Linked DNA regions of Homo sapiens: all the other regions are linked to region 2. Evidence: fine-mapped expression QTL. A gene starts in region 2. Each other region holds a variant in brackets. All regions are shown on one strand. Distances are from middle to middle. Region 1 has its middle 28 kb from the start of FOCAD. Region 2 holds the start of FOCAD (focadhesin). Region 3 holds the start of MIR491 (microRNA 491). Region 4 has its middle 21 kb from the start of FOCAD. Region 5 overlaps FOCAD (focadhesin).

Region 1 (4,053 bases), 29 kb before region 2:
GCCAGGATGGTCTAGATCTCCTGACCTCGTGATCCGCCCACCTCGGCCTCCCGAAGTGCTGGGATTACAGGTGTGAGCCACCCGACCCTAGGCTCCACTTCTAATTATAGTTATCTTGCTATTTCTGCCACATCTGCAGTGATTTCCTCTACTGAAATCTTGAACCCCTCAAAGTCACCCATGAAGGTTGGAATCAACTTTTTCTAAATTGTTCATGTTGATATTTTGACCTCTTCCCATGAGTCACAAATGTTCTTAATGGCATATATAATGGTTAACCCCTTCCAGAAGGTTTTCAATTTACTTTGCCGAGATCCACCAGACAAATTACTATCTATGGCAGCTGTAGCTTTACAATAACGATAGTAATAATAAAAGAGTTGAAAACTGAAATTACTTCTTGATCCGTGGGCTGCGGAATAGATGTCGTGTTAGCAGGCATAATAGTAACATTCATCTCCTTGTACATCTCCATCACAGCTCTTGTGTAACCAGGTACATTGTCAGTGAGGATGAAAGGAATCTTTTTTTTTTTTTTTTTCCTGAGCAGTAAGTCTTTACACGGGGCTTAAAATATTCGGTAAACCATGCTATAAACAGAAGTGCTGTCATTCAGGCTTTGTGATTTCACTTATAAAACAGTGGCAGAATGGATTTAGCATCATTTTTAAGGGCCCTAAAATTTTCAGAATAGTAAGTATGCATTGGTTTCAAATGAAAGCCATCAGCCCCTAACAAGAGGGTCAACCTGTCTTTTGAAGCTTTGAAGCAAGGCACTGACTTCTCCTCTTTAGCTATAAAATTTCTAGATGGCATATTCTTTCAATGGAAAGGTGTTTCATCTACACTGAAAATATGTTGTTTAGTGTTCCTCCTTCATCAGTGATCTCAGCTAGATCTGGATAATTTGCTGCAACTTTTACATCAGCACTTGCAGCTTCACTTTGCACTTTTATGTTTTGAAGATGACTTCCTTCTTTAAACTTCATGAACCAATCTGCTAGCTTCTAAATTTTCTTCTGCACCTTCCTCATGTGTCTCAGCCTTCATAGAATTGAAGAGAGTTAGAGCCTTGCTCTGGATTAGGTTTTGGCTTTAGAGAATGCTGTGGCTGGTTTGATTTTATATCCTGACCGCCAAAACTTTCTCCGTATCAGGAACGAGGCTGTTTTGCTTTCTTAGCATTCATGTGTTCACTGGAGTAGCTCTTTTTAATTTTCCTCAATAACTTTCCCTTTGCATTCACAATTTGGCTAACTGATGCAAGAGGCCTAGCTTTCAGCCTACCATGGCTTTTGAGATGCTTAATCGTTTTTAGCTTTTGATTGCTAGTGAGGGATGAGTGACTCTTCTTTTCACTTGAACGTTTAGAAGTCTTAGGGTTATTGGTCTAATTTCAATATTGTTATTTCTCAGGGAATAAGGAGGCCTGAACAAAGGGAGAGAGATGGGGGAATGTCTGATCTGTGGAAGCGTGGAACAATCAGGACACACACAACATTTCTCAATTAAATTCAAGTCTTCTAGGGTGTGGTTTGT[G/T]GTGCACCAATGCAATTGCAAGAGTAACATCAAAGATCACTAATCACAGATAGCCATAAGAGATAAGACATTTTTTATTGTGTCTATTAAATTCTTCTCTCTTTTTTTCTTTATTAGTCTTGCTAGCGGTCTATCAATTTTGTTGATCCTTTCAAAAAACCAGCTCCTGGAGTCATGACTTTTTTGAAGGGTTTTTTGTGTCTCTATTTCCTTCAGTTCTGCTCTGATTTTAGTTATTTCTTGCCTTCTGCTAGATTTTGAATGTGTTTGCTCTTGCCTTTCTAGTTCTTTTAATTGTGATGTTAGGGTGTCAATTTTAGATCTTTCCTGCTTTCTCTTGTGGGCATTTAGTGCTATAAATTTCCCTCTACACACTGCTTTGAATGTGTCCCAGAGATTCTGGTATGTTGTGTCTTTGTTCTCGTTGTTTTCAAAGAACATCTTTATTTCTGCCTTCATTTTGTTATGTACCCAGTAGTCATTCAGGAGCAGGTTGTTCAGTTTCCATGTAGTTGAGCGGTTTTGAGTGAGATTCTTAATCCTGAGTTCTAGTTTGATTGCACTGTGGTCTGAGAGATAGTTTGTTATAATTTCTGTTCTTTTACATTTGCTGAGGAGAGCTTTACTTCCAAGTATGTGGTCAATTTTGGAATAGGTGTGGTGTGGTGCTGAAAAAAATGTATATTCTGTTGATTTGGGGTGGAGAGTTCTGTAGATGTCTATTAGGTCTGCTTGGTGCAAAGCTGAGTTCAATTCCTGGGTATCCTTGTTGACTTTCTGTCTCGTTGATCTGTCTAATGTTGACAGTGGGGTGTTAAAGTCTCCCATTATTATTGTGTGGGAGTCTAAGTCTCTTTGTAGGTCACTCAGGACTTGCTTTATGCATCTTGGTGCTCCTGTATTGGGTGTATATATATTTAGGATAGTTAGCTCTTCTTGTTGAATTGATCCCTTTACCATTATGTAATGGCCTTCTTTGTCTCTTTTGATCTTTGTTGGTTTAAAGTCTGTTTTATCAGAGACTAGTATTGCAACCCCTGCCTTTTTTTGTTTTCCATTTGCTTGGTAGAGCTTCCTCCATCCTTTTATTTTGAGCCTATGTGTGTCTCTGCACGTGAGATGGGTTTCCTGAATACAGCACACTGATGGGTCTTGACTGTTTATCCAATTTGCCAGTCTGTGTCTTTTAATTGGAGCATTTAGTCCATTTACATTTAAAGTTAATAGCGTTATGTGTGAATTTGATCCTGTCATTATGATGTTAGGTGGTTATTCTGCTCGTTAGTTGATGCAGTTTCTTCCTAGTCTTGATGGTCTTTATATTTTGGCATGATTTTGCAGCGGCTGGTACCGGTTGTTCCTTTCCATGTTTAGCGCTTCCTTCAGGAGCTCTTTTAGGGCAGGCCTGGTGGTGACAAAATCTCTCAGCATTTGCTTGTCTGTAAAGTATTTTGTTTCTCCTTCGCTTATGAAGCTTAGTTTGGCTGGATATGAAATTCTGGGTTGAAAATTCTTTCCTTTAAGAATGTTGAATATTGGCCCCCACTCTCTTCTGGCTTGTAGGGTTTCTGCCGAGAGATCCGCTGTTAGTCTGATGGGCCTCCCTTTGAGGGTAACCTGACCTTTCTCTCTGGCTGCCCTTAACATTTTTTCCTTCATTTCAACTTTGGTGAATCTGACAATTATGTGTCTTGGAGTTGCTCTTCTCGAGGAGTATCTTTGTGGCGTTCTCTGTATTTCCTGAATCTGAACGTTGGCCTGCCTTGCTAGATTGGGGAAGTTCTCCTGGATAATATCCTGCAGAGTGTTTTCCAACTTGGTTCCATTCTCCCCATCACTTTCAGGTACACCAATCAGACGTAGATTTGGTCTTTTCACATAGTCCCATATTTCTTGGAGGCTTTGCTCATTTCTTTTTATTCTTTTTTCTCTAAACTTCCCTTCTCGCTTCATTTCATTCATTTCATCTTCCATTGCTGATACCCTTTCTTCCAGTTGATGGCATCGGCTCCTGAGGCTTCTGCATTCTTCACGTAGTTCTCGAGCCTTGGTTTTCAGCTCCATCAGCTCCTTTAAGCACTTCTCTGTATTGGTTATTCTAGTTATACATTCTTCTAAATTTTTTTCAAAGTTTTCAACTTCTTTGCCTTTGGTTTGAATGTCCTCCCGTAGCTCAGAGTAATTTGATCGTCTGAAGCCTTCTTCTCTCAGCTCATCAAAGTCATTCTCCATCCAGGTTTGTTCCGTTGCTGGTGAGGAACTGCGTTCCTTTGGAGGAGGAGAGGCGCTCTGCTTTTTAGAGTTTCCCGTTTTTCTGTTCTGTTTTTTCCCCATCTTTGTGGTTTTATCTACTTTTGGTCTTTGATGATGGTGATGTACAGATGGGTTTTTGGTGTGGATGTCCTTTCTGTTTGTTAGTTTTCCTTCTAACAGACAGGACCCTCAGCTGCAGGTCTGTTGGAATACCCTGCCATGTGAGGTGTCAGTGTGCCCCTGCTGGGGGGTGCCTCCCAG
Region 2 (4,047 bases):
ACTGGTGCATTTGGAAGACTGAAAGAGAGTATCATCAAAGTCCATAAAAAGGGAATTATAAGCCTTATAAAACTCCTTTGAAGCAAAGGATAACAGAGGTTGAATAACTTTAAGTAGGTTCAATATTGATTGATTGAATGATTGATTGTGACAGTCTCACTCCATCAGAGGCTGGAGTGCAGTGGCGCCACCTCGGCTCACTGCAACCTCCGCCTCCCGGGTTCAAGCGATTCTCCTGCCTCAGCCTCCTGAGTAGAGTAGCCGTGACTGCAGGCGCGCAACCCCACGCCGGGCTAATTTTTGTATGTTTTTTTTAGTAGAGATGGGGTTTCACCACGTTGCCTAGGCTGGTCTTGAACTCCGCCCTCCTCGGCCTCCCAAAGTGCTGGGATTACAGGTGTGAGCCCCCCCACCTGGCCCCAAGATTAATTTAGATAAATTCTTAGAGGGTGAATGCATAGTTGGTTATTGGGAAAACTGTTAACGGTCTGTGATACATAATTACTTTTCTGAGGTGATGGGGAACCAAATTCTTCCTACAAATGAGAAACAGAACTTCTTGTCTACACATTAAAATGACTTTGGAAACTTAGAAAAATATCAATGTCAAGATCTGGCAGCAGACCTTTTTCAACCAAGTGATGAGGCCCAGGCACTTGTTTTTTTATTTTTATTTTTTCCTAAGGGTGCCCCAGGGTTTAGAAACAACTAAGTCAGATATTTTTAGAGTAATTTGTCTTAACTCTTTCATCTTGCGTAAAATTTCCATTCTGTCATCCACAACCGGAATTCCACTCCGTCATACCAGTCTCTCCTCGTTTTTTTCTGCTGGCTCTTTTCAGCGTGTTTCATCGTGGCTGCTGTCTGTCTGTTACAGCCTTCTCACGTGGGAGCCCCTGCCCCGCCCCACGAGAAAATACATGTTTATCATTCAGTAAGTATTGCGCAAAATCGTAACAGAATAATTACTCGCGCCAATTCCCCCCAGATTAGATCAGCAGAAACACTTGGGCTAGAACTACCTCAGGACTATCTAACAAGTGGATATACCACAGTGGCGTGGAGAGCTGCAGTGTTATGTGTTGGCCAAATGAAGTAAAGACACCAAGTAGCTATTAGGCGAAGAACGAAGCGTCTTCGCGGCAAGTCGGCTGTCTGCTTTAAATTTTCTGAATCCTTAATGTTATCAGTATTATTTATTTCCCCCGAGAAACAAAATCTCCAAATACCAAGAAGCTGTTCTGTATTGCCAAAAGCTGCATAGGGGCAGGCTGCCAACAGGACTACCCGGGCACGCTGCAGTGGCATCTCTAGGCAGTTTCCTTTAATCTGATTTTCCTTGGGCTAACTCCTCACTGCGGTGCTGCTCCACAGCCAGCCCCCGCGCGCAGCCCTCCCCGCACCAGCTCGGCTGCAGAGCGCGGGTCCGCCGCCCACGCCGCCTTTCAACCGCAGTGCGCGGCCCGGGCCTTAGACGCGCGTGCGCGCGAGCCGGGGAGGGCGGGCCCCAGCCGGAGGAGGCGGAACAGGGCCTCGCGATATGCAGCCCATTGGCTCTCTCCTGCAGTCCCCGCCCCCGGGCGTTCGAGGCGGCGGGGCGGGCCACGTCAGGCAGCCGGCGCTGGGCTGAGCTTGTGGCAGAAGGGAGGTAAGCCGTGCGGGGCGGCGGGCTGCCACCGCTGCACCCCTGCTCGGGAGCCGCCGGGTCGCGCCGCCTGCGGCCCGGTCGGCTTGCATGGAGGGCGGCTGAGGCCCTGCGGGGCTGGGGCTGAGCTGGGAGACGGGGCAGTGGAGCATGTGGCGGCAGGGCCGCGTCGCGGCGAGGGGCAGCCGGGAGGGGGCTTTTTGCCCTCGTCCGGTCCTGCTGGGGCTCTCAGCTTCTGGAGGACTAGGCCTTCTGAGGTTACGGAGCTCCGAGATACCTGGGCAGGGCTGGCTGTGGTGACTGCGGTGGGACTTAGTGGGATCTCGACTCGGAAGCCGGTCGGCGCGATCCTTGCATACTTAGCTGCAGCAGGTTGCAGTCGTCCCACTCTCCTTCGACCGGTTCCCTAGTTGGGGGCAGAGCAGGAGATTCTGGCCGCGTCCTGCCTGGCCTGGGGTGACTGTCTCCTTCTCATTCCCGGTGACTCACTCAGATCATGTCCACTTATAATGCAAAGGCTTATGGGTGAGCAGGGCCTGTTTTCAGTCTCCTAGTTCTCTGGCTCCGTCCGCACTTGCGGCAATTACTTGAAGAAAGAGTATGTTAGATGTATGTTTTGAAATTTTCGCAGCAGCTAACGCGTGGAGACGTGCAGTTATGTTGCATTTACCCTTCATGAGTTTTAGTTTCAGCTGTGGCGTCCTGATATCTCAGTGTGGTTCCTGAATTTGGAGCTTTTGAAATGAATGAAATCCTGCCAATTTCATGCAGTCATTCATTCATACATTCCAAACTTTTTTGATGGATGCCTTAATGGTCAGCCTCATACCAGGTATTAAAATCGGCATTTCCTGCGTTTTATTCCAGTTTATATGTTAGTTTTATTGTCTAGATTTGAGTTGGAAATTTTTTTTTTTTTTGTTATTTTCAGGTTCTAGTATCCCTGAAACCATCGTGGCTCTGAGGGTGTAATCCTGATAACTGTATCAGTAATGACTCCAGGTTTCAGTGGCCTATCTGTAAGAAGAGGAATGGGATTAGTATAATTTTGAGATTTTCCAGGAGAGGAGGGTAGATGGCATGTTTCCTGAACTGTGTTAACAGGAAGTAACTATTTTAAAAACACAGGATGCATTTTATGATTATGTTTTACTGTGTCAACGAACATTGTATCTGTCCACATTCACTTTTTGACTACCAAGCAAGTGCATGTTTACAATTTTGATTCACATCCAATTCCTGCGTAGAAAGCACTGTGACTCATCTGAATTTTGAAATGAAGTAATCATGAGCTTTTTAATGTTACATACAAAGGTATGATATTGAAACAATTGCATAAAAATGCAATTTTCAAAGCATTTTCACTTGCTTTTATAGATTAGTGGAAGCTAAAACCTCTGCCTTGATTATTTGCTTACTTAATCAATGTTAGGTAGTTACCATCTCTTGGCTAATGTTTATCAATATTATATCTATTTTAACATTTGTTTCATTAACCCCAAATTTACTGGATTTTAACTGATTGTTGTCTCCAGTTGACGCCTGATAACCAAAAGGTTATCAGGAGGAGCTGGAGGAGGCGGAACACAGCCTCGCGCCCTGTAATAAATAGTTTGAAATCAAAATTTTCATGGACGTATAACCAGAGTTTTTCATTTGTTGATTGATTGATGGTGCTTACCGGTAAATCGTTTGGCCTTTTTCCCCGTTTAAAATGATTTATGAAACAGTCTGAGACATAATATTCTTAGCTTCATGATACTTTTGGGATATTGTCCACAAGTGATTAGTTGAATTAAATTGTTAATATCACTATTAGGAGTTTGGAAAATTTAAGAAAATATAACTTCTTAAAATTTTGCATTTGCTATTTTTTTGTTTGTTTGGAGACAGGGTCACTCTGTCGCCCAGGCTGGAGTGCAGTGCTGCGATCTCGGCTCACTGCAACCTCCGCCTCCCAGGTTCAAGTGATTCTTCTGCCTCAGCCTCCTAAGTAGCTGGGATTACAGGCGCATGCCACCACACCCAGCTAATTTTTGTATTTTTAGTAGAGACGGAGTTTCACCATGTTGGCCAGGCTGGTCTCGAAATCCTGACCTCAAGTGATCCCTCCGCGTTGGTGTTACATCTTTCAGTTCTAGAAATGGACCTGATCAAGATTGCAAGGTTAATGGGGAAAATTCAAGAGCTGAGGACATTAACCTTCTAGCGGGAAAAAACCACAATGAGAAATAATAACTATATTTGGAGGAAGTGTAAGGAAATAATAGTTTAAGGATTATTAGTCTATAACAAATCTTGATCTTAATCAGTATTTCTTGATGTATAACAAAGAACTTGGTTTAAGCACAAAAAGAAAATTAGGGTGATAATTTAAATTTTGATCAAGTGGGTAGTAAGTA
Region 3 (4,000 bases), 31 kb after region 2:
AAAGTACAGATTGAGTATTCTTTATCTGAAATGCTCGGGACCAGAAGTGTTTTGGATTTGGATTTAAAAAAAAAATTTTTTTTTGGACTATTTGCATATACTTTAAACCGGTTGAAAATCCAATCTGAAAATCCAAAGTGCTCCAATGAGCATTTCCTTTGAGTGTCACGTCAGTGCTCAAAAAGTTTCAGATTTTGTAACATTTTGAATTTTGTATTTTCAGATTAGGGTTGCTCAACCTGCAGTTAGAAAAGGCTGCTAGTTCATTACAATATGCTTTGTTTTTTGAGATCAAGGGAACTTGGTTTTTCTGCTTGTTATAAGTTAATCTAGGGCTGTTTATTGACATAAATTTTAATTTTAATTATATTGTAAAAGTAGGTGACCTAGAGGGCCCTGTTTTTCAAAATAATGTAATTGGTAGGTTCAGTGCTTCATGGAAATGGGATAAATTGGGATCCTTAGGAAATCCTCTTATTAGTTCCATGGTCCTGCTTTACCACCTGCCTTCCCCATCCTTTTGCATGCTTGCCTGCCTGCCTGCCTGCCTGCCTGCCTGCCTTCCTTCCTTCCTTCCTTCCTTCCTTCCTTCCTTCCTTCCTTCCTTCCTTCCTTCCTTCCTTCCTCTCTCTTTCTCTCTTTCACTTTTCTTTTCTTGTGAGCCCAGTAGGAATGATAAGTGAGATATAAATATTAAAAGTTGGTGCTAATTGTTTGCTTGTTCCTCCTTTAGGAAACAGTCTGTTTTAATGTGTGAACTTCTAGGTCTTTTCTATACTTCTTGAAAAAAGTTCACCTAGGCTTCACACTTGTCACTAGCAGTTGGATTAGTGCTTAGATGAAAGCTTGTGCCAAAGTGAGGCATAGATGAAGTAATTTTATGACCGTTTGACTCTTTCTCCCTTATAAGTTTTGATCCACAAAAGAATTAATTTCTATTTCAAATGTGTGGTTGAACTTTTGGATGTTTTTTTCATTTCCGTAGTGCAAATTCATCTTTTTCAGGATTAGCTCTCATGGGAAAAACCAAGAGCTGTTGGGCATTTTTAGTTTATTTATCAATCATGACATTTGAGTGCTGGATGACAATGAAGTTTTGCCAAGGATTACTCTGCAGAGCCCTGTGCTTTATTTCCATTGTTATCTTTGGAATGGATTACATTCACATTATTTGAGGAATAATTAATTGGAGCCCCAATTCAGACCAGTTGGAAGACTAACAAATATTCTTTTGTTTTGGTTACAGAAGCTGCACACATACATGTAAGAGAAGCAAAAATGTCAGATGATATCAGGAAAAGGTTTGAATTTCCAAATTCTCTTATCCAATCACAGGTAATTTTGTTTGTTTATTTTTGCTCATGGTAACAAATAAACCTGTTCTGTGGATTTTTAACTGAACTTTATATATTTAATATTAAATATTTTATTCTACATGTAGAGATTTATATTTTGTGAAACAACTTTAAATATACATTTAATTTGAAAATATATATTTGACATGGAAAGCAAATATTTGAAATTGATCAATCTCAGCTTCTGTTTATATATCATACTTTTCTTCCTAGAGATAATAAAACCTTGATTAACTAGTAGGCCCCTGAATATGTTTGTTTGGTTTTTTTTGGCCTATGATTATTGGGAACAGAGGTAAACAGTTATATGTCTGAAGAGTATGAGGGATTAATATTTAAGAAGACATATCCTACCCCTTATATAGATTTTTATAATAATGATATTTAATAAGTAAAATATCCTGGATTAGAAAATTTGATATATCTACTAAGATAGAAGATTGTGATAACTTTAAAGAGCTTTTCAATAATTAAATAGTTAAAACAAAGATGGCTTTCTGGGTAGCCTTTAGCTAACTAGAAACATTCTGGTTAATCAAGGTATCATAATAGCTTATTGTCTTTTCTTGTGAGAGTAAAGCTAACAGACCAGCAGAAGCCATCTTGAAGACTTAACAACATACAGCACCTTGGATACTTTCAACAATTAACTTCGGAGATGTCTGCTGTGGGAATTGACTTAGCTGGGTAGTGGGGAACCCTTCCATGAGGAGTAGAACACTCCTTATGCAAGATTCCCTTCTACCTGGCTGGGTTGGAGTCATATCCTGCAGGTCCTTACCATGAAGAAGAAGATGAAGGCTTGGAGGATACTATTCAC[A/G]GTTTTATTTTTCTGTGCCTGGAGTCTCTTTGTTAACATAGATAATCAAGAAATGCCCATACGTGTTACTGTTAAATTAGGTGAAAAAAATATATATATATATTTATATTGTTTAGTGTAGGATGGCTATTTGAATTCTGTTATAGAACACTTAAGTAGCAATGTAGGCTGATTTATCCTTGGGTTTTGTATTTTAAAAAATCAGTTTAGGCTAGTATCTCTGATTTGTTAGAAGATGAAGTGAAAAGTATATTAGATAAATTCAACCTGGTGGGGAATGGGGAATTAAGCTTCTCTTCTTTTATTTCTTTTTCTAGATATGAACTATAGCTTTTTCTTTGTCCCTATTGTGTTTCATATTAGTTTTATTAGGTTCTTGTGATTGTGTCCTGTCCTTTGCAAATATTTCTTATTGTTCTTCTGTAACCACTGCTCGATGTTAGCACCATATTTCTTTGATTCACACACGTTTTTTTTCAGATTTTAACATCTTTGAAATTGGATTGCCTCTAGTAATTGATGGCAGCAGTTGAGATACAGTTGGTATTGCCTGCACATTTGTGAACTTGGGCATGATTTTCTACACGAGTCTAAAAGAACTCTTGTGTGACTATAAAACCAAAATTCCGACTTATAAGAAGCACTGTATATCATAGACTAATTGGCAGCCTTTTTTCTTTCTTAGTGGCACACAGTATAATGGTGCAACTTGCAATTCCTGGTCAGTTCCATTCAATGAAATATGGTATGTTTTGTAAAACAGGAGCTCAACCTATCCATGGGTGCTCAGTTCTTATTACTATTCCTTTTACTAGGAGATAAGAGACAGTAAGTTGGACTAAACTTAATATTCATGTAAATGAGTGACTTATATCACAAAACTAGACCACAAGCACCACGGTCTTAAATCAGTTCCAATGTGTGAAATACAAAGAGAAAAATGAGGAAGGAGTGGGTGCTGTGTTTTTATTTGAGCTGTTCTGGAGACTTTGCAGGACTGACAGTTATTCACAGCTATACCGTAATTTGGTCCCAAGTGCAGGATGGACAGTTGTAGCAATAGTGAAGTAGTTTCCAACCCGTACACAGAATGGCAATGATTGTTGCTAGCCTATTGGCTCTAAGACATATTCTTCATATTCGTTAACAGTGTGATGAAGCATGGTGGATTTCGTTTCAGTGCAAAGATGATTTTAAAAACTATGGGCTTTCTCATTCATGTTTTAATGGAGTAAGCAATCTCAAGTTATCTTCTGATACTGACAGCAATTTGAACCAAAAATCTGGCAGTTTTCTTAACCTCTATGCACTATAGTTGCTTATTGGTAACCTGGGATAGATATGCCTACCTTGAGGGCTATTCTGAAGATTAGAAATTGTGCATGTGGAGTGCCTAATTCAATGCCTTCTACATAGCACACACTTAGTTAATGGGAATTTTACTTAATCCTAATTGACTGCCTGGCATACTCATATCAACTAGTATTGATATTTGGAAAGAACTTCTAAGGGACTGTGTTCATTAATTTTATTTCTTTTTAAGGCTGTGGGTCATCTTATTGCTGCAGTCCTAAAGGAAAATGGTTTTTCAGAAAAGATTCACCAATCTACAAATCAGGTCTGTGTTTAACTTTATGCTTTAATTCTCTTCAGATAAGATTGCTACTAGCTGGATCACATATGCACCTGTCTTGTTTCCCTGATAGTTCAGATCACAGTAGAAATGCTTTTGAACTGTGAGAACTTCATTGCCTTTTTTGTTTATTTGTTTGCCTTTTTAATATATAGCAATAAAAAAGTTTTAAATTTATTAAAACCCTCTAGG
Region 4 (4,053 bases), 22 kb before region 2:
GGCAGACAGTCAAAGAGAAAGAGAGAGAGAGAGAGCAATTTGGGCAAAAATTATGGGGACATTCCATGACAAGACTGTGATTAAAATGGAGTGGTTGAACATGTTCATAGACCACGGGAAAGGAGTCAGCAGAAGAGGGGAGGTTTAAGACAGAGAGGAATAATTTGAGAAGGGATGTTTTAGAGAAATTAGAGAAGTAGAATTAAGAGCACAGCTGGAGAGCTAAGGAGGCTGTGGAGATGTTTGGCAATGGCAACTGAAAATGATGGCATTCACTCTGATGTTCTTGGTCTTCTCTGAGAAGTACGGAAGCAAAGTTATCTGAAAAATGTGGTAGAGGAGAATGGGTTGGGAGACAACCAAAGACTAGTAAAAGGACTGAGAAGTAGCATGAAGGGCTCAATAGACAGGAGAAACATTGAAATTGTAGTGTCAGCACCACTTAAAGATGTATGATAGTCTCCAATGTGCTGAGTTCTGTAGGAGGAAGAGTAGACAACATGTATTATAAGATTGTCTCAAGACTGGGTTTTGCAGCAGGCTGTGATAGAAAAACCTGACTTGGTTGTGAGGAGTGGGGAAAGGGAGGTGTTAAAAATGAGGGAATTTAAATGGTTGGGAGGCAGTTGTTCACTTGATGGGCCAAGGAGCACAGACTAGGCAGGTAATTAAAGTCTAAGAGGGAACTGTTAAACTGAGATATTCTCAGTGTCCTTCTTTTTCTCACTATCTCTCTTCCTACTGTTTTACATTTTGTCACACTGGGAAAAAGAGGTCAATATTTAGAAAATCAGCCATTGTGTCTAATTTTCATATTGCTAAACATAGGATACATTGAGTACATATTGCTGCAAGCCCTATGGAAGTTAATTCAGTAATACCAGATTACAAAGGCATTTACACTTAGACTCAGAAATTCTACTTCTGTCACTTTATCCTACAGATATACTTAGGCAGGTACAAAATGATGTGGGCAAAAGCACCACTGTTATTAGTAAAAGCTTGGAAACCTCTGAAATGGCCATCAAAAAATGCTGCTGTAAAAGAAAGAATGAGGAAATTCTTTATATATTGACATGAAAAGATAACCAAGATTAAGTGAAAAAAAGGCAAGGTACAAAACAGTGGTAGAGTATGCACCTTTTGTCTATGAAAAATGGGGAATTATGAATATGTATGATATTTGCCTTAGTTGCACAAAGAACTACTGAAAATATCTACAAGTAGTGGATGGGACATGATTTCACAGTAAACTTTTTATATTGTTTTTATTTTTTAAATGTGGCTGTGTTGCTAAACATAAAGTGGAAATATATGTGTGTGTGTGTGCATATATGTGTGTGTGTGTGTGTATAATTACAAGCTACATTGTGATAGCCATGGAGATGCACAGTCCAGATCCCATTACAAGGAATTAATTACTGCCCAGCTGTGGAGAACGTAGTCTGCACAAAAGCCTCCAGCTGTCAGCTCCTTTAGGGTCAGCCTCGGGGGTAAAGAGCCATCTTAGCCAAAGTCATGCCCTTCCCAAGGCAGCTTACATTTGGTGACTGAGAGAAGCAAGGGAATAAAGACTGGGACATTTTAGTCTGGGACAACTCCGAAGGGCAATATTAGCCTCCTAAGCTCCCAGCCAGGGTGACTGGGGACTTTGTCCAGCCTGCATCTGGTTTCAGCTTTTTTCCTGCTCAATTCTGCTTCCTCTCCCCACTCCCCAACACGTTTGACAGATATTTATACCTTTTTATTTCTATTTTTAAATTTTTTTTTTTAGAGGTGG[G/T]GGTCTCATTATATTGCCCAGGCTGGTCTTGAACACCTGGGCTCCCTGCCTTGGTCTCCCAAAGTGCTAGGATTACAGGCGTGAGCCACGGCACCCAGCCAGATATTTATCCCTGATAAACGTCTTGCAACCCAAACTTTGGCTCAGAGCCTGCTTTTGGAAGAGTCAGGAATATATTTTGATAACATTCTAAAGATTTAGTTTTCAATGCATAGTATACTTAATAGAAAAATCAAGACATTTAAACTTAAAGGAATAATTCAAATAACATAATAGAAAATTATTTGTATCCAGTTGTCTTGAGTCTAATGTATTTCAATATAACCTTTTAAAGTTACAGTTTTAACAGTAACACTTATAATGTATCTTATTCTCAGTAAACAAACTATAAAACAAAAGGTTTTTTACTTCTGATAATATCAAGGAACAGTGGCTATGTTTGCAAATTAAATTAGGCTGGGTGTGATAGCTTCATGCCTGTAATCCCAGCTCTTTGAGAGGCTGAGGTGGGAGGATTGCTTAAAGTTAGGAGTTTGAGACCAGCCTGGGCAACATAGTGAGACTGCCTCTACAAAAAAATAAAAAACAAAAAATTAGTCAGACATGGTGGCACATGTCTGTATTCCTGAGCTCAGGAGTTTGAGGTTACAGTGAGCTGTGATCATGCACTGCACTCCAGCCTGAGTGACAGGGAAAGACCCTGTCTGAAAAAACAAGCAAGCAAACAAATAAATAATATAAAAAATTAAGAGGCACTCTTTTCCTTAACGAAATATTTCTATCAGCGGTCCATATTACCTACTACATGTATGCATGTGTGCATGAACACACACACACACACACACACACACACACACATACACACAGTTTATGACTATGTTTGCAATCTTCCAATCTATCATCTATCCTTAATCACTTAATAGACATTTTATTAAATGCTATGCATCAAAAACAATTCTAAGACATGGGCCCTCTTTTCAAAGAATTCAATATAGTTGCCACTTCAATAATGGTACCAGAATGCTTTTAAAATTCTTGTGTGAGGAAAACAATACGTAACCTCAAGCCTGAGACTGCTTCACGTATCACAGTATTTTCTGAAAGACTTTCCTTTTCAGACTTCTGCATTTTCCATTTCTCTAAAACACATTTTCTGTAAAAACCATCTCAAGTATCCTTACAAAGTGTACTTTATATGATATTTTCTCCCAATCTTCATACTTGAACAAATAAACATGTAGGGATTATGTTTCTTTCTATTCTTTATTAATGTCATGAAGTAAATCACTAGTGGATGATGTCTTTTAAACTTGTTTTCCCAGTTACCTATTTTGTGTTGTTATTTTGTCTTAATGAGATCCACTGAGACAGTAAATTTCAAAGCACTTTTCCAACAGTGAAGTGAAAATATCAGCATTGTTGTTTTTATTAATTATTAATGAAATGAATGTATTAACTCTGTTTTCTCCTCAAGATTCTGCAGAAAATCTAATTTTAAAAGTTCTATATTTAAATAACATATGTTTTCCTTTTAAAAAGTTCTATATTTCTAGACCCATATATAAATAAAAAATAGTTTATAGTATTAAATTTATATCTATTTGTGAGACAAGGTTGACTAAGTGATCTGACATATTGACTAAGTGATCTGACATCTAGTATGACCATAGAAACACCTACTTTATTAAAAGAGGTAAAAAGTAATAGTTCAATTAATACTGATTCTATTTAATGGTTCAACAAATCAGACCTCAATTAGAAAGAGCTATTCATTTCTCAGTGCATATTATCTACTAAGCATTTTAAGGGCTCCAAAAACAAGTAGGGCTTCATCAGTCTTTCTGAAGAGTTTATAAGTTTATAATATATTCAAGAGGAATAAGGCAAATAAGCAGGAAGGGAGAGATAAATCCCATAAAGAAGGAACCTTATAGTGGAGAGCTTCAAATGCCAGAGTGATTTCTTTTCTTTTCTTTTCTTTTCTTTCCTTTCTTTTTTTTTTTTTTTCTCATGGAGATGAGGTCTCGCTTTGTTGACCAGGCTGGTTTCAAACTCCTGGCCTCAAGCAATCCTCCTGACTTAGCATCCCAATGTGCTGGGATTACAGGCGTGAGCCATTGTGCCCGGCCCAGGGTGATATCTTAATAATGGTGATGGTTTCAAGAGTTTATACATGTGTCAAAGCTTATTAAATTGTATACTTTAAATACATAAAGTTTAATGTATGTCATATTTACCTCAATAAAACTATTTTTCAAAATACCAGTTTTTGG
Region 5 (4,000 bases), 74 kb after region 2:
TACTTGTAGCAGTTCTGAATCCTGGTAACATATTAAAATTACCTGTAGAATTTTAAAAAATTGCTAGGGGACAAACTTCATTCCTAGCAGTCTAAGATAACAGACCTGGGCATTAGTATTAAGGGCTCTACAGCTAATCTAACTTGCAACCAAGAATAGGAACCACTGCTTTATAGCAGTGCATCAGAATTTCCTGCAGGGCTATTTATTAGGTCTGGGCTAGGGCTTGAGAATTTGCATTTCTAACAAGTTCCCAGTTGATCTTACTAGTAAGGCATCACATTTTGAGAATCACCATGAAGGCAATCTTAAAAAATCATCTGAGTGTAACTGATGGTCTGATTGTTACTCTTTTTTGAAAAATCATTGCTGGAGATATATTAAAATTAAAGACTAGCTCCGTGTATGTGGTTCCTTTTATGCTAAAAAGATTGATATTTCTGTATTGTTTGCATGTTTTTACAATGAGCATTTTAATGTTTTTTTTTGAGATGGAGTTTTGCTCTTGTTGCCCAGGCTGGAGTGCAATAGCATAATATCAGTTCACCGCAACCTCCGCCTCCCAAGTTTAAGTGATTCACCTTCCTCAGCCTCCTGAGTAGCTGGGATTACAGGCATGCGCCACCATTCCCGGCTAATTTTGTATTTTTAGTAGAGACAGGGTTTCTCCATGTTGGTCAGGCTGGTCTCGAACTCCCAACCTCAGGTGATCCACCCATCTTGGCCTCCCAAAGTGCTGGGATTACAGGCGTGAGCCACCGCGTCCAGCCTTAAATCTTATTTAAATATTTTCTTGGAGGAAAAAGCCACATAAATAATAGCTAAAAATTGTATAGTACTTAATAGTTTAAAAAGCTGACCAATTTACAATTATTAGTAGAGTAGCCTTTTTGAACTATTTAAAATAACTCATGGTTGTACTTTTTGTTTTTTTTTGGGGTTAAACCCCATTCTTTGAGAATCCTTCAAATTTCAGATTTTATGTTTTATATAGTCTCTTTAGGTATCTTAATAGAAGTAGCTCAAATAAACGGATTCATCTGCATTCAACAGAAATTTTATGCATCTTCAGTTTGGATAGTTGTTAAGATGGAAGGAATATTTCCTTTTTTCTATTCTTAAATATGCTGGGGAAGCGCAGAACCATACAATGGGAATAATGAAGTACCTGGAAACAGAGAGGGAGAGACAGAGCTTATGGGTTCGGGTAAGGTTGGAGGAAATGGAACTTACCAGGCTTGGAAAGAGAGCAGCGGTAGCAGGAGGAGGAGGTGGCTTGTAACCTCTAGGAATGAAGGATCAAGGGGATGGATATGAGAGAGCTGCTGGATTCAGGAGCTTGGCCAAAGTCACAGAACTGTTAAATGGAAGAGTCCATTCCCAGATTTGGATCTCTGAGGCTCCTGTGTCCATTTTGTTTTCTGCAAAAATGTTAGGAAAAGGCAGGGGGGAGAGTCAGTTCTGATGAACCAACTCTGCAACAAATGGAGCAAGTGATCATTTTGTGACAATTATGAATCGTGAAAAAAGTCTCTAGATGGTAGGTACTGGCTTCTTTGCTGCTATATTTGGATATTGAAAATGTGTAGTCCTGAATAACAGGTTCCCATGTGACTTTCTGTGTCTTTCAGAAATCATCCTCATCCTTTGATAACTGTGCTTGAACACAGACCTGATTGCTGGCCAGTGTTTTTGCAGCAGCTGACAGCGTTTTTCCAGCAGTGCCCTGAAAGGTAATGTAAAATAAAAGTGTAAAATAAAGTGAGGGAGACAGAATGGTATATGCTAATTTTAGAGCTAGGGTTTTTTTTTGTTTGTTTGTTTCTTTTTAGCTGCTTTGATCTATAA[T/A]GTTTTCTCCTGAAGAACCATCCTAGAGCAGGTTGTAGTTTTCTTTTCTTTTTAAATTTAATTTTATTATTATTATACTTTAAGTTTTAGGGTACATGTGCACAATGTGCAGGTAGGTTACATATGTATACATGTGCCATGCTGGTGTGCTGCACCCATTAACTCGTCATTTAGCATTAGGTATATCTCCTAATGCTATCCCTCCCCCCTCCCCCAACCCCACAACAGTCCCCAGATTGTGATGTTCCCCTTCCTGTGTCCATGTGTTCTCATTGTTCAATTCCCACCTATAAGTGAGACTATGCGGTGTTTGGTTTTTTGTTCTTGTGATAGTTTACTGAGAATGATGATTTCCAGTTACATTCATGTCCCTACAAAGGACCTGAACTCATCATTTTTTATGGCTGCATAGTATTCCATGGTGTATATGTGCCAACATAGTGTTGGAAGTTCTGGCCAGGGCAATTAGGCAGGAGAAGGAAATAAAGGGTATTCAATTATGAAAAGAGGAAGTCAAATTGTCCCTGTTTGCAGATGACATGATTGTATATCTAGAAAACCCCACTGACTCAGCCCAAAATCTCCTTAAGCTGATAAGCAACTTCAGCAAAGTCTCAGGATACAAACTCAATGTACAAAAATCACAAGCATTCTTATACACCAATAACAGACAAACAGAGAGCCAAATCATGAGTGAACTCCCATTCACAATTGCTTCAAAGAGAATAAAATACCTAGGAATCCAACTTACAAGGGATATGAAGGACCTCTTCAAGGAGAACTACAAACCACTGCTCAATGAAATAAAAGAGGATACAAACAAATGGAAGAACATTCCATGCTCATGGGTAGGAAGAATCAATATCATGAAAATGGCCATACTGCCCAAGGCCATTAAAAACTACTTTAAAGTTCATATGGAACCAAAAAAGAGCCCGCATTGCCAAGTCAATCCTAAGCCAAAAGAACAAAGCTGGAGGCATCACACTACCTGACTTCAAACTATACTACAAGGCTACAGTCACCAAAACAGCATGGTACTGGTACCAAAACAGAGATATAGATCAATGGAACAGAACAGAGCCTTCAGAAATAACGCCGCATATCTACAACTATCTGATCTTTGACAAACCTGAGAAAAACAAGCAATGGGGAAAGGATTCCCTATTTAATAAATGGTGCTGGGAAAACTGGCTAGCCATACGGAGAAAGCTGAAACTGGATCCCTTCCTTACACCTTATACAAAACTTAATTCAAGATGGATTAAAGACTTACATGTTAGACCTAAAACCATAAAAACCGTAGAAGAAAACCTAGGCATTACCATTCAGGACATAGGCATGGGCAAGGACTTCATGTCAGGTTGTAGTTTTCTATTTTCTTTTAAAGAGTAAAAGAAAAAAATCTACCAGATTTATTGGTTGTTGAAATACTGAATATGAGAAAAGCTGTTATTAAGGAAGTTAAGCATTGGTAAGTGGTTAGGAAAGTTGGCTAGAATAATTCAGTAAGCTACTACACAATACATATAGGAGATAAGTTCTTCCCCTTGGACACTGGCTAATGAGTTAGTCTCTCCATTAGAAAACTGCCATTTGAGATAAAGTATTACTGCCAAGTGGGATCAGATAGCCACCATATGTGCAGTTAGTGTACTTTCACCAAGGCCTCCTGATGGCTCTCAAAGCTACTCCCCTTTCTTCTATCCTTACTACCATGACGCTGGTTCAGGGCCTCAATATCTCTTGATGTGGCTCTTGCCACCTGTTCCTAACTGGTGTCTCTGCCTCCAGTCTTGTCCTGGTCAAATCCAGTCTCTAAACATCCCTCAGAAGGATATATCAAGAGAGCAGATCTTACAGTATCATTCCCATGCTTAAGTCTCTGTGGCTGTGGTTTTCAAACTGCACTTGCAGTGCATGGGCTAAGCATGGAGCATGTTCCCACCCCTTTGGCTCTGTTTTCATAGCACTTACTTGTTGATATCTTATGGAAGCTTTCTATGGGAAAACAAAAAGGATTGGTTTCTGAAACAGTTTGAAATTCCCTGGACTATAGGATAAAATCTAATATGTCATAGTAGGCTTAGTATATGATGCAGTTCCAATCTATCTCACCAGCTTTATCTTTTCTTATCTTCATCTCGCAGTT

The links. PIP is the estimated chance that this variant, and not a neighbour inherited with it, causes the effect.
Region 1: its variant is fine-mapped to the expression of FOCAD in whole blood (TOPMed, PIP above 0.99).
Region 3: its variant is fine-mapped to the expression of FOCAD in whole blood (TOPMed, PIP above 0.99).
Region 4: its variant is fine-mapped to the expression of FOCAD in fibroblasts (GTEx, PIP above 0.99).
Region 5: its variant is fine-mapped to the expression of FOCAD in whole blood (TOPMed, PIP 0.96).

The regions. Positions count from the first base shown.
Region 1 is chr9:20,654,026-20,658,078 of GRCh38, forward strand. It overlaps a transcript of FOCAD not described here. Among named protein-coding and RNA genes, the nearest start is that of FOCAD, 28 kb to the right of the region's middle. The variant G/T (reference allele first, on the strand shown) is at 1,540.
Region 2 is chr9:20,682,646-20,686,692 of GRCh38, forward strand. It overlaps FOCAD (focadhesin), which reads left to right and starts at 1,614. Exons shown (of 44, transcript NM_001375567.1): 1 at 1,614-1,648. It overlaps FOCAD-AS1 (FOCAD antisense RNA 1), which reads right to left and starts at 2,105. Exons shown (of 2, transcript NR_121601.1): 1 at 1,923-2,105; 2 at 657-896. RefSeq lists a silencer at 1,217-1,916 and an enhancer at 1,316-2,056.
Region 3 is chr9:20,714,076-20,718,075 of GRCh38, forward strand. It overlaps FOCAD (focadhesin), which reads left to right. Exons shown (of 44, transcript NM_001375567.1): 2 at 1,247-1,335; 3 at 3,719-3,793. The coding sequence starts at 1,279. MIR491 (microRNA 491) reads left to right here and starts at 2,030; the gene lies at 2,030-2,113. The variant A/G (reference allele first, on the strand shown) is at 2,176.
Region 4 is chr9:20,660,870-20,664,922 of GRCh38, forward strand. It overlaps a transcript of FOCAD not described here. Among named protein-coding and RNA genes, the nearest start is that of FOCAD, 21 kb to the right of the region's middle. The variant G/T (reference allele first, on the strand shown) is at 1,781.
Region 5 is chr9:20,756,459-20,760,458 of GRCh38, forward strand. FOCAD (focadhesin) reads left to right here. Exons shown (of 44, transcript NM_001375567.1): 6 at 1,632-1,733. Among named protein-coding and RNA genes, the nearest start is that of SNORA30B, 28 kb to the right of the region's middle. The variant T/A (reference allele first, on the strand shown) is at 1,849.